Linked DNA regions of Homo sapiens. The protein of the gene in region 1 purifies or fractionates together with the protein of each later gene. This does not show direct contact. Each region holds a gene or a part of one and is shown on either strand. Other genes may lie near its edges.

Region 1 (7,424 bases):
GCTCTCAACGGAACTCTTTCCTCTTCACTCAGTCCTTCCCTTCCATCTCATTTTTCCTAATCCTTCCTGTTCCCAAGGTAACAATCACTTCTTCGGGAAGGGTTTTTTTTTTTTTTTTTTTTTGAGTCTGAGTCTCGCTGTCGCCCAGGCTAGAGTGTAGCAGCATGATCTCGACTCACTGCAACCTCCGCCTCCTGGGTTCAAACGATTCTCCTGCCTCAGCCTCCCGAGTAGCTGGGATTACAGGCGCCTGCCACCATACCCGGCTAATTTATGTATTTTTAGTAGAGACGGGGGTTTCACCATGTTGGCCAGGCTGGTCTCGAACTCCTGACCTCAGGTGATCCGCCCCCACCTTGGCCTCTCAAGGTGCTAGGATTACAGGTGTGAGCTACCATGCCAGGCATGTTCCTTCATCACAATCTCCCATAGTGCCCTGTACTTCCTGAATCAGCATTATCTTAGGCAACCTCTGAAGGTCTACATAGATTCTCTCATTCACTCCTTACAACAAAGGTGTTGATTCCTATTTTACAGATAAAGAAGCAGGCACAGAGAGGTCTAGTAATTTGGCCCAGTCTGGCTCCAGGGCCCACACTCTTAACCACAAGGGTGTATTTGCCTCATGCTGCTTTTGGGACTCTTGGTTAAACATATGTCCTCACTTCTATTTGAAGTCCAGTAAGGGTAGTGAGTATATCTAACTTAATCACCACTGAATTCCTAGCTGGCAGCAGGGGGGTACTGCAGAGAAAGCTGCCCTGTTAACGTGTGTTAAGAACCAGGTGTGGTGGCTCACACCTATAATCCCAGTGCTTTTGGGAGGCCAAGGCAGGAGGATCACTTGAGGCCAGGAGTTTGAAGTTACAGTAAGCTATGATCACATCATTGTACTCCAGCCTGGGTGACAGGGCAAGGCCCTGTCTCTGTAACAACAACAACAAAAAAAAAACAGAAGTGGGCCTGGCTCAGTGGCTCACACCTGTAATCCCAGCACTTTGGGAGGCCAAGGTGGGAGAATGGCTTGAGCCTGGGAATTTGAGGCTGCAGTGAGCTGTTTGTGCCACTGCACTCCAGCTTGAGTGACAGAGCAAGACCCTGTCTCCCCCAACAACAACAACAAAATCCTCACACCCTCCTTTTTAATGGTACAAATAAATTTATTACTACTTGTATTTTTTAAGTTGGATTTTTTTCATTACATGGCTTTGTCTATTACCTATAGTTTACATAGAGTACAACGCAAAGATAGTAGGTATAAAATTTCATGAGTTTTGATAATTGTATACACGTATAATCACTGCTTCAATCAAGATATAGAGCATTTTTGGCTGGTGTGGTGGCTCATGCCTGTAATCCCAGCACTTTGGGAGGCCGAGGCAGGCGGATCACTTGAGGTCAGGAGTTTGAGACCAATGTGGCCAATGTGGTGAAACCCTGTGTCTACTAAAAATGCAAAAAATTAGCCAGGCCTGGTAGCGGGCGCCTATAGTCCCAGCTACTCAGGAGGCTGAGACAGGAGAATCGCTTGAACTTGGGAGGTGGAGGCTGCAATGAGCTGAGATTGCGCCACTGCACTCCAGCCTTGGAAATAGAGCAAGACTCCGTCTCAAAAAAAAAAAAAAAAAAAAAGATACAGAGCATTTTCATCATCCCTGAAGTTCCCTTGTACCCCTTCCCAGTCAATCCTACTCACTCTATCTCATCCCCAGGCAACCACTGTTCTGATTTCTATCTCTATAGATTAGATATACCTGTTTTGGGCTTATATGAATGGAATCATGCAATATGTACTCTTTTTGCACCTGGGTTCTTTCATGCAATATAATGTCTATGAGATGTCAAATCTCTCCACTTGATCTTGGCCAAGAGAGCGAGACGCGATGAGATGTCAAATCTCTCATCCATGTTATTGCATGTATTTCATTCCTTTTTATTATTATTTTTTGAGACAGAGTCTTGCTCTGTCACCCAGGCTGGAGTGCAGTGGGGCAATCTTGGCTCCCGCAACCTCCGCCTACCGAGTTCAAGCGATTCTCCTGCCTCAGCCTCTCCCGAGTAGCTGGGATTACAGGCGCACCCCACCACACCTGGCTAATTTTTTTTTTTTTTTTTTTTGAGACCGGGTCTCCCTCTGTTGCCCAGGCTGGAGTGCAGTGGCGCGATCTCAGCTCACTGCAAGCTCTGCCTCCTGGGTTCACACCATTCTCCTGCCTCAGCCTCCCGAGTAGCTGGGACGATAGGCACCCGCCACCACGCCCAGCTAATTTTGTTTTTGTATTTTTAGTAGAGACAGGGTTTCACTGTGTTAGCCAGGCTGGTCTCGATCTCCTGACCTCAGGTGATCCACCTGCCTTGGCCTCCCAAAGTGCTGGGATTATAGGCATGAGCCACTGCGCCCGGCCCTAATTTTTGTATTTTTAGTAGAGGTGAGGTTTCGCCATGTTGGCCAGGCTGGTCTCGAACTCCTGACCTCAGGTGATCCACCAGCCTTGGCCTCCCAAAGTGCTAGGGTTATAGGCGTGAGCCACCGCCCCCGGCCCTTTTTTTGATTTTTAATCAACATTATTGAAAGGTATAATTTATATACCATGATATTTTAAATGCACAAGTTCTCACACAAAAATTAGCCAGGGGTGGTGGCGAAGTGCTATATTCCCAGCTGCTGGGGAGCTGAGGTGCGAGGATCACTTGAGTCTGGGAGATCAAGGCTGCAGTGAGCTGTGAACGTGCCACTGCATTCCAGCCTAGGTGACAGAGCAAGACCCTGTCACAAAAAACAAACAAAAACAGTTATTCTTCCTTGGGAACTGCTTATAAAAAAGAAAAAGCAGGTCAGCACTGTGGCTCACACCTGTAATCCCAGCACTTTGGGCGGCCCAGGCAGGCAGATCCTTGAGCTCAGGAGTTCAAGGCCAGCCTAGCCAACGTGGTGAAACTCCATCTCTACTAAAAATACAAACATTATCTGGGCGTGGTGGCGTGTGCCTGTAATCCCAGCTACTTGGGAGGCTGAGGCAGGAGAACCGCTTGAATCCAGGAAGCAGAGGTTGCAGTGAGCCAAGACCCGGCCACTGCACTCCAGCCTGGGTGATATCTGTAAATAATGGTTCCATGAGTTTAGAAATACAAAGTAGCATGACTTAACAAATTTACACATCTATGTAACCAGGTCCCAATCAAGATACAGAATAATTCTATCACCCAGGAAGTTCTCTTGTGTCTGGACCAAACATCCTTCTCCACAGGTAAGCTCTGTTAGTTTTTATCAGCATAGATTTTATTTGTCCTATTCTTGAATCTCATATAAATAGATTATACATTATGTATTTGGTGGTCCTTCAACATAATGGCCAGGTGTGGTGGCTCATGCCTGTAATCCCAACACTTTGAGAGGCCAAGGCAGGAGGATCTCTGGAGTTAGCAGGAGATCAAAAGCAGCCTGAGCAATATAATGAAGACTTCCGTCTCTGCAAAAAGTTTAAAAACTAGCCAGGAGTGGTGGTGCGGGCCTGTGGGCCCAGCTACCTGGGAGGCTGAGGTGGGAGGTCAAGGGTGCAGTGAGCCGAGATCACACCACTGCATTCCAGCCTGGGCGACACAATGAGACCCTGACTCAAAAAAGAAACGAAAAAACGCATTGTGTGTTGTGTTTATTGGATGGTGGAATTATGGGGTTTACGGGTCTTCTGTTGCGTTTTGGTTTTTGTTTTCTTACCTGTTATCGCGTTCCTAACAGTAGAAATTGGCATCATATAGTATTCTCATGGAACTTTCCTTTGTTCAAAGCCCTACAGTTCAGAGACTTACACATTTAATGTGAGATATGACAGGCTTAAAAAGAAACGTTGGGGGCCGGGCGCGGTGGCTCACGCCTGTAATCCCAACACTTTGGGAGGCTGAGGCGGGAGGATCACAAGGTCAGCAGTTCGAGATCAGCCTGGCCAACATGGTGAAACCCCATCTCTACTAAAAATACAAAAATTAGCCGGGCGTGGTGGCGGGCACCTGTAATCCCAGCTACTCGGGAGGCTGAGGTAGAATAGCTTGAACACGGAGGCGGAGGTTGCAGTGAGTCGAGATCCCGCCACGGCACTCCAGCCTGGGACAGAGCGAGACTCCGTCTCGAAAAAAAATAATAAAATAAATAATAAAATAAATAAAATAAAATAAACGTTGGCTTATTTCAGTGTGAAGTAAGGCAATAAACGGAGGGCTAACAGTTCCACTTCGTAGAGCTCAGACATTTTAAGAAGCGAGGAGGCCGCGTCCTGGAAGGGTGAGCAAAAAGCGCGAGGTTTGCGCACGAAGGGAAAGGCGAGGCCCGAGGAGAGACCTGGCGCCGCGCAGAATGATGATGTCGCACGCTGGGTGGGAACTGACGTCACCTGTGCTCACCGCCGCTTCCGGTCCGCGTGAGGTGCATTCTCGCGCCGGTGGCGAGGTTAGGGCCCGCGTTGCGACGTGGTGCAGCGCATATTTTCACAAGTGGGTCTCCCTTGTCCGGGACTATGGCCACCGACTCGTGGGCCCTGGCGGTGGACGAGCAGGAAGCGGCTGTCAAGTCGGTCAGTAGCTCAGCTCCTGGCGAGGAGGACGTAGCAGGGGCCCAAGCGAAACCTCCCAAAAGCACAGGGAGCTCCCCGGGTTGGGGAGGCCCCTGGGCAACGCGCTCCTGCAGTTTGCTAGGGCAGTCACTTGCCCTTGATTTGCTCTTAGAGCTAAAGAGACCAATGTCGAGCTTTTTATCTCCATCTGGGCTGGTTAAGGACTTCATCCTTTGGTAAATCCGCCCCACTATGCATGCTGTCATTCCTCTATTGACCTCCTCGGTGACGATTATAAGGAAAGCCAAGTTTAGATTCTGATTCTCTTTTTCATTACGCGACTGTTCTTCGCATGTTTCTGTACTACTCTGTATTTAACATTTCTTAGATCCATGCTTAACGTGGTTGGTAGTTTGTAGCTCTTTGCAGAATAACAGATTGACTTTTGGATTTAATACCTCAATCTACTGCAGATGTTGGAAGGAGGCACTACAAATTGTTTCATTGATGTGTAAAGTAACGGTTTCATGTACTTGTTCTTTCAGTAATGAATATTCATTCAACTGGAATGTAATTACAGCATACACTGTGGCTTTCTGTTCTTATATCTAAGACCTAAACTTTAGGTTTGTTTAGTGATAATGGACTGTCTTTTTTTTTGTTGTAGTTGTTTCTCTTTTGAGGCAGAGTTTTGCTCTTGTTGCCCAGGCTGGAGTGCAATGGCGCCATCTCGGCTCACCGCAACCTCCGCCTCCCGGGTTCAAGCGATTCTCCTGCCTCAGTCTCCCGAGTAGCTGGGATTACAGGCATGCGCCACCACGCCCGGCTAATTTTGTATTTTTTGTAGAGACGGGGTTTCTCCATGTTGGTCAGGCTGGTCTCGAACTCCCGACCTCAAGTGATCCGCCCACCTCGGCCTCCCAAAGTGCTGGGATTACAGCCGTGAGTCACCGCGCCCAGCCGGTATGGGGATTTTTGAGAGGGCTATTGACAGAATTAGACAAGGCTGGCAAGGATTTATTGAACTACAGAGAACAGAATATGTTAGAAGTGATGGCTAATAGAAATATCAGTGTAGAAGTTATTCTGATAGCCCCGAGATAGAGGGCCTATGTTGGGCAGTGGAAGTGAAAATTAAGGGATGGGTATAAGATATGAAGGTAGAATGGGTAGGACTTGCTAACATAATAAAGGAGAGAAGGGAGATAAAGCCAAAGGTTTCTGTTTTCAACCTGGATCCTATTGGTACTACTAACGTCCCAATAACAGGAATAGGAAAGTGGGAGGAAGGGCAGATTTGATAGAATGGTGAAGGCAGCCGGGCATGATGGCACCCACCTGTGATCCCAGCACTTTGGGAGGCCGAGGCGGGCAGATCACTCGAGGTCAAGAGTTTGATACCAGCCTGGCCAACATAGTGAAACCCTGTCTCTACTAAAAATACAAAAGTTAGCCAGGCGTGGTAGTCGTCCCCTGTTAATACCAGCTACTCAGGAGGCTGAGGCATGAGAATTGCTTGAACCTGGGAGGTGGAGGTTGCAGTGAGCCAAAATTACGCCACTGCACTCCAGCCTGGGCTACTGAGTGAGACTCTGTCTCAAAAAAAAAAAAAAAAAAAAAAAGAGGTGAAGGCTGGGCACAGTGGCTCACACCTGTAATCCTAGCACTTTGGGAAACTGAGACAGGCAGATCAGTTGAACCCAGGAGTTCAAGACCAGTGTGGGCAACATGGCGAAACCCCATTTCTACAAAAATACAAAAAAAATTAGCTGGGCGGGGTGGTGGTACACTCCTGTAGTCCCAGTTACTCAGGATGCTGAGGTGGGAGGATCACCTGAGCCTAGGGAGGTTGAGGCTGCAGTGAGCTGTGATCACACCACTGCACTCCAGCATGGGTGACGGTGAGACCCTGTTTCAAAAAAAGAAAAAAGGGAATGGTGAGTTCAGGTTTGGCTGTTCTGAATTTAAAATAAGGAAACATCTTGGTAAGTACCTGTTGTGGGAGTCCCCAAGAGATGCCAGGTTTGACGATTTGTTAGGAGAACTCACAGGCTCAGTATGTAGTTGTACTCACAACTATGATTTATTATAGTGAAAAGATACAAAGCAAAATTAGTGGAGGAAAAAGGCTCATGGGCTAAGTCCAGAGGAAACCAGGCAAACTTCCAAGTTATCTCCCAATGGAGTCCACAGAGTGTGCTTCATTCTTCCGGTAGCAAATTGTAACAGCACATATGAAGTGGTGTCAGGGAAGCTTGTTAGAGACTCTACTTGAGGCTTTTATTGGGGGGCTGTCATATAGTCACCCTGTGCCTAGCATGTACCAGAATTCCAGACTTCCAGAAGGAATGCAGGTGGTTAGCATAAATTACATGCAACTGTTTTTAAAAAGAGTTGAGGCAGACTGACCCCCTCTTATCAGTTCTAGGAATGATGGGAACCTTCCCAAAGTCCAAGTTCGCAGGTGACAGCCAAGGGCCAGCCTTGCAAATAGGCTTTCCTAAGGAGAGCGGTCAGGCCTGCTGTGTTCTCTTCTGCCCGGTAGCCATCAGACATTTGGAAATACAGCACTGGAGTTCAGGAGAAGGAGCAGGTCAGAGGTATAAAACTGGCAGTTTCCACAAAGAAATTACAAAGCATTATCAAGGGCATGGTCCTTGCACTCTGGAGTTTAAAATCTAGCGTTTAGCATCAGATCTTCTCTGAAAGAGTTACTGAGAATTGGTTTCAAACCTTGTGAAATCTGTGATCCTAACCTAGCTGTGACATGAATATCACAAATATAGGCCTAAACATACTTGGTATCTGGTTCTAAGCATCCAGCTTATCAGAAGGCTGGTATAAATAAAGGCTTCCTAATAGTTGGAGAAGACCTTT
Region 2 (7,032 bases), on another chromosome or scaffold:
ACAAGGTGAGAGGTGCAACAGCTTGACACAGGATGCTAGCAGGGGGACAGAGCTGTGGGCTTATGACATGTGACACAGCAGAGGGTGGAGCTGACAAGACCTCCCGCCAGCCTGGACTGGGGACAGGTACTGTTAAAGAGAGGGATCTAGGATGCTTCGGGGCTTGGGGCTTGTGCAAACATCTGGTTTGTTAGTGCTACTTACCCATTGGAAAAGGACTAGCCTCTAGGGGAGACAGAAATCAAGAGTTCTGCTTTAAAGATACTATAATTTGAAATGCCCTTTAGACTATTTGATACTTACAACGATTAACACTAGAGAGGTCTTAGACTGCATCAGCATTCATTAACAGCAAACATTTATTTGACAAACACTGTATGTCATGCATCATGCCACACCGTGAACTGTGACCTGGGCACTTACTATGTACCTAGTACAGGTGTGTGTTAGGGTACAAGGGTTGGTTAGAGGGACACAGAAAGGAAAAGACATAACGCTTATTCTCAGGGCACTCAAGTAATCACGTGGGAAACTGACATACAATTCTCTTTACATTATACCATAAAAATAAACTGAGATGATGGACTACAAATCTAAATATGAAAGATAAAATAATAAAGCTTTTAGAAAAACATCTTTTTGACCTTGAAATAGAAAATTATTTCTAAAACATGAAAAGCATTAATCATAAAAGAAAAAACTGATATACTTAATTATATTAAAATGAAGAATGTGTATTCATCAAAGAAACAAAAAAGACAATGAATAGACAATTCACAGTGAGAACATATTTGCACTGTATGTGTGTGCGTGTGTGTGTGTATTCAAGGAACTCACTCTTAAAAATCAGAAGGAAAAAGCCAGACAATCCAACAGAAAAACAGAATAAAGACATGAACAGACACAACATAAAAGAAAATATTCAAATGGCCAATAATCATCTTTTAAAAAGCTTAATTTTGCTAATCATTAGAGAAATACAAATTAAAACCACAAAACCATACAACAAAAGATGAAAAATACCAAGAGTGGCAAGTATGTGGAGCAGCCAGAAGTCTCATACACTCTTGGTGGGAATCTACTAATGAGGAATACATGCAGATTCTATGACCCAGCAATCTCACTCATAGGGATACACCCAAGAGAAACTTGCATATGTGTTCATTGAAGATGTCAACTGGAACGGTCATAGCAGTGCTACATACAATGGCTTAAACCTGGAAACTACTCAAGCGCCCATCAGAGTGGAACAAATAGTTGTAATATAATCACACAATAAATTCCATACAACGACATGGATAAATCTCACAAACATAATGTTGAACAAAGCAGCCAGATACAAGAATACATACTGTACAAATCCACTTGATAGGAGGTACAGGCAGGCTAACCTCATCTATGCTGTTGGAAATCAAATCAGCTACTCTTTGGCAAGAGTAGTGACTAGAAGGGGACAGGTGAAAAAGAACTCTGGGGTTCTGGCCTCCGCCTCCCGGGTTCAAGTGATTCTCATGCCTCAGCCTCCTCAGGAGCTGGGACTACAAGTACGTGCCACCACGCCCGGCTAATTTTTGCGTTTTTAGTAGAGACGGGGTTTCACCATGTCGACCAGGCTAGTCTCGAACTACTGGCCTCAGGTGATCCGCCCGCCTTGGCCTCCCAAAGTGCTGGGATTACAGGCATGACCCACTGTGCCCAGCCAGGTTCTCGTAAAATTCTGTTTCTTGATCTGGATGCTAGTTACCAAGGTATGTTCAGTTGTTGACAATTCACTGAGCTGTACATGTATCATGTGTACTTTTTTCTATTTGTATTATACATGAATAAAAAATTAAAATAGCTAAATGGCTTTTACGAGTATACAAGTATTCAAACCTCGCACTTTGGTATTTACTATCACATAGTCCCAATTACTATGTCCAAGGTCTGAATTATAAAACATGAAAACTCATTTTATTCATAGGTATGCTTGGGGCAGTAAATTAATAAACACAAACATTGCAAGCTGAATTTAAACATACCTGGGGAGAGCCTGGCTTTGCCGCTGGAGGGGTTATCCTGGGTGATTTCTGTACCATTGAGGGCACTGGGCTTGAACTGCCCTGAGCAGATCGTCCTGCTTGAAAAAGAAGTCAGTTAAAATAGATGGCATTTATTACCTTTATTTCTCCTATCACAAATGTCCTTTCTCCAAATCTAAGAAATTAAGTTACACATTGCCCCTGGCCCACTTTCATGATTTATTTTAAAGAGTGATGACCACCAGTTGTGCTAGCCTCTGTTCTAAGATAATGAAAAAAATATATTAAAATTTTAGGAGCCAGGTATGGTGGCTCAAACCTGTAATCCTAGCCTTTTGGGAGGCTGAGGCAGGAGGATTGCTTGAGCCCAGGAGTTTGAGACCAGCCTGAGCAACATGGCAAGACTTTGTCTCTACAAAAAAATTTAAAAATTAGCCGACGGTGGTGGTACATGCCTGTAGTCCCAGCTACTCAGGAGGCTAAGGTGGGAAGATCGCTTGAGCCCAGGAGGTAGAGGCTGCAGTGATGTGCTTGGGTGAGAGAGTGAGAGGGTCTCAAAAAACAAAACAAAACTTCCTGTTTACAGTATGACTGACTGTGAAAATATGAATATAATCACTGCAGGTACTCTCTCCTCTGTACTTTTTTTTTTTTTTGAGACAGAGTCTCGCTCTGTCGCCAGGCTGGAGAGCAGTGGCGTGATCTCGACTCCCTGCAATCTCTGCCTCCTAGGTTCAAGTGATTCTCCCGCCTCAGCCTCCTGAGTAGCTGGGATTACAGGCACCCACCACCACACCTGGCTAATTTTTGTATTTTTAGTAGAGATGGGGTTTTGCCATGTTGGCCAGGCTGGTCTCGAACTCCTAACCTCCGGTGATCCACCTGCCTTGGCCTCCCAAAGTGCTGGGTTTATAGGCGTGAGCCACCGCACCCCGCCAAACAACTCTTGTGCCTGTGCTTCTTAAAGAACTGTTATGTAACTGCTCTTCATGGAGGGCAGGCTCCATATGAAAATAAATGCCCAAGAGCAAGGCATTTTTGACTCATTAAATACACTTAGCTCCATAAGAAGTGTCAGAGAGAAGAGTGGCAGCATTTAAGCAAGAGCAAATCTCCCAATTCAGAGTATGAAAATCACAGCACATTAATCATTAATGTATGATACAGGAAGCAAGAAAAAATAACCTTGTCCAACTATGTTAGCTACGACTCTTAACACTTAAAACCGTTAATCTGAGAAGGCAGGGCTGAGGTCTAAAGTTGTCTGCTTAAAATCATACCTGATGGTGAGGGCAAGACTGAGGACTTCAATGGCACGGAACTAGGTGGTGCTGAGAGAGGTGTGGGGTGGCTGAGTGGTCCAGAAGCAGCTGGCTTGGAGGCAGAAGAGAATGGCGACATCGGGGGTGCGCTCTGGGAGCTACTAACAGGAGTAGAGGTAGCTGCAGCAGTAAACCTGAAAAATGGCAGCCTGAAGGCCTCAGAAGAGCCTGCTAGAAGATTCTTTTACACTAGCATGAGCAATGTCATCAAAAGATAACTTATTATCTTTTATGTTAACTTACAAAGATAACATACTTTTTGCCTTCAGGAAACAAAAATGTTTAGCTATTTCTTATAAAAGGTGAAAGCTGCAAGGAAACATTTATCTTTTCGTCTGCTTATTTAGGAATTAATTATTCAGGGGAAATATCAAAACTAAGTTTATCACAATATGAAATACCAAGTTTATCATGATATGAAATACTATTGTTTCCAGCTGAGTTTTAAACAGGAGGTGGGACACAATTATGCTTAGGAGAGTTAGTACTTTCTCTTACCAAGGAAATTACTGAGAACTCGTTTTGAGAGTGAGCACCTTCTCTGGGGAGTGAAAAAGGAAGAGGAATGCAGGGAACTGTCTTTGGGATACTTATGGCCTAAAGGAAATGTAAAGTCGGTTCCACCTAAAGAGCAAAAGTCTGTAGACAATCTAAACTCCAGCATTAGATGACTGGTCAGATAAACTGTGGTGCAGTCAACAAAATGGAACACTATGCAACCCTTAGCATGAAGTGGATGTGTGCCAATTCAGTATTAACAGTAACTGTGGTGGCAGCAGCACCACCATAGCAACAACAGATAGTACAGGCAAGTAGGGAAAAAGCTGGTAGTACTTATACTCGATGGTTATCTTGGGAACTCATGGTTATCTTGGGAGGGGTTACAAGATATAAGGGATTGCTTCCCTCCAAAAGCTTACATTCTAGTGGGAAGAAAAGAACAAGATAAAGAAGTAAATAAATAAGAAATGAGTGAGCTGCCCGACCCAGATCTGGAGGAAACTGGATACCAACCTAAGAATTAGCAGTGAGCAGCCACGGGGCTTCATAGGGACTGTCAAGCAGAAGAATCACCTAACAATTTACAGTGTCACAAGATGACTTTGTGGCTGTGTAGACAGCAGTTCAGAGAGAGTTAAGGGTAGACACAGGGAGGAAAAAAGACTACAAGGGATTCATTTCCCTTCCAGGATGCATACTCTGGATTGCTTCTTTTTTTAAAATAAGGAATATTTCCTACATTTGTAACGTAAAAAAGCAAAACAAATACCTGAATATAAATCCCATAGTCAAAAAAATAAAATGCTAGCTAAGAGACCCTTCTGGACTCTATTCACTGATGAAATGCCAGTATTTTATGTTGGTTGAATTTTTGCCATTTGCAAGTATCACTCTGGGTAAAAAAATTCTACTCAGTTAACTCCTCTCAGAGTGACTCTACTTTTAGTAAATAACATCCAATATTTCTACCCAACTCACAGAAGAATCAAACTTTAGAAGTGACTTACTTTTCACTAAGGTTGACTTTGACAGCAGAGGTTGAGGGTGGGAAGGAGGGCTTCATTGCTATATTTGGAGCAGACACACTTGGCACTGGTGTGCTTTCCAGGGTAGGCTTAAAACCAGATGATCCAAAGGAGAATGAAGCAGCTGATGGAGCCACAGGAGACGCTGCAGGGGTGGGGGCTAGGGAGGCTTTAGAAGGGGGAACAAAAGAGAAGGTTGATGGGCCAGGGCCTGGGGCTGCTTTGGAGCTGTCGGAGCCACTGGAATATGAAGGGGGCTCCCCAGTGACCGTAGCAGATGACTTCAAAGATGAAGAACCAAAGGAGAACACAGTGGGGGCTCCACCAGCAGGAAGCAAAGAAAAAGTGGCAATGGGAGCAGCAGGTGATGAAGGTGGCAGAGAGGCAGGGGCTGCAGCTGCAGAAGCATCCAGTTTCTGTGGGGCTTGAGAGGAGGTTGGGGTAGTGGGAGTACTTCCTGCAGTGACAAAAAAAGGAAGGAAAATGTTAACACTGTAACAGTGGAGGTTCACATAATAGAAAGCAAGTGAAAAAGAATTTGTGGTAGAATAAAGCCAGAAATGTTACTAGTTTAAGAAGCAAAAAGAACACATGGGTACACAGTTCATGTTGGAGTTTTCAGGTCTCATGAGATAAATGAAACTGAAGGAAAACTAAGGAAAGACATTAGAATAATTGGACTTCATGGACTTCTCAGTGCTACTATGGCACACAAAACAGTTCAGTCACTGCAACATTTCATTAACAACCAGGAAAAAGTTTTAATTCAGACCTCCACCTTATTTCACTAAAAGTAATTCCAGATAAATACACATAGAAAGTCACATAAATACAGGTATCTCAAAACAAAGGAGGCAAATTGATAGATATGTTAGGTCTCAGAATCTAACACCTTGATAAATTTAGAAGTGACCAAAAAAAAAACAATCGCAAAGGGAGAAGGTTAAGATTTGTGTAAAAAATAGCTACTCAGGTACAATAACTAAATGGTAATGAACTAAAAAAAAAGATCCATAGCAAATGACAAATAAGATGTTTTCTATTTTTTAAAAAGCTCATACAAATTGAGATTTTAAAATTTCAGGACTAATAAACAGGGAAACTAACTCACATAAAGAAAACACATTCAATCTCTCTAATCAAAGAAATATAAACAAGGTACATTTTTAATTTGTCCTCTAAATTATAAGAATTTAAATATGTCTAACCCCTTATGTTTGGATGGGTAAAACAAACCTGAAACTTTTTATCACTGGTAGGTAACTAGTATTTTTTTTAAGAAAACATTTTGGCATTGTATAAAAAACTGTAAAAAACAGACCCAGTAATTTCTCTTCTAAGAATAAAGCTTACAAACATAATGCAAAAAATGAAAAAGATATTTAATGCAATCCAAATGGTTAAAAAGAAAAAAAAAAGTCAATGGAAGGCTGGGCGCAGTGGCTCATGCCTGTAATCCCAGAGCTTTGGGAGGGCAAAGCAGGAGGACCCTTTGAGTCCAGGAGTTTGAGACCAGCCTGGGGAACAAAGTGAGACCCTGTTGCTACAAAAAAAATACAAAAATCAGCCAGGTGTGATGGCTTGTGCCTGTAGTCCCAGCTACTTGGGAGGCTGAGGTGGGAGGATCGCTTGGACTTGGGAGACAGAGGCTGCAGTGAGCCAAGATCCTGCCACTACACTCCAGCCTGCACAACAGAGTGAGACCCCTGTCTCAAAAATGAATAATTTTTTTTTCTATTTTCCAAACTTTCCATAAGGTAAAAATATTAATCTTTAAATTAAATAACCAACTAAATAAGAAAAGAATTCTTTGTGTCAATATTTTCTATTTATATTAATAGGACTTGGTTGTTCCAAATTAGCTAAGATGGCAGTTTATCTTCATGGAAGACACTTTGTCTAATGCAACGTAATACTTAGATACAAGTATGAAAATACCACTTTCTGAAAACAAAAATCCAAGTAAACTGTCACATTGATGAAAGTATAATAATGCAAGCAAACCTATTCTGTTAATACTTCTTTATACAATAGATATGGAACCAGCTACAACTAACTTCTGTAAAGACATACATAGATGTTAAAACACTTTCATGCATATTAGGTAAACTGACATGAAAAATATATACCAGACCCTAAATAAATCAAAAGCATTTTTTCCAC

What was found.
Region 2: the proteins of DDX19A (region 1) and NUP214 purify together in Homo sapiens (affinity purification with mass spectrometry; 3 studies listed by BioGRID and IntAct, with this or other methods). This does not show direct contact.

Annotation. Positions count from the first base shown.
Region 1 is NC_000016.10:70,342,481-70,349,904, forward strand, and holds the start of DDX19A (ATP-dependent RNA helicase DDX19A), read left to right. Parts: upstream 1-4,422; 5' UTR 4,423-4,511; coding exon 4,512-4,568; intron 4,569-7,424. UniProt on the Homo sapiens protein: ATP-dependent RNA helicase involved in mRNA export from the nucleus.
Region 2 is NC_000009.12:131,142,574-131,149,605, reverse strand, and holds part of NUP214 (nuclear pore complex protein Nup214), read right to left. Parts: intron 5,327-7,032; coding exon 4,852-5,326; intron 3,478-4,851; coding exon 3,302-3,477; intron 2,120-3,301; coding exon of another isoform or gene 2,117-2,119; coding exon 2,022-2,116; intron 1-2,021. UniProt on the Homo sapiens protein: Part of the nuclear pore complex. Has a critical role in nucleocytoplasmic transport.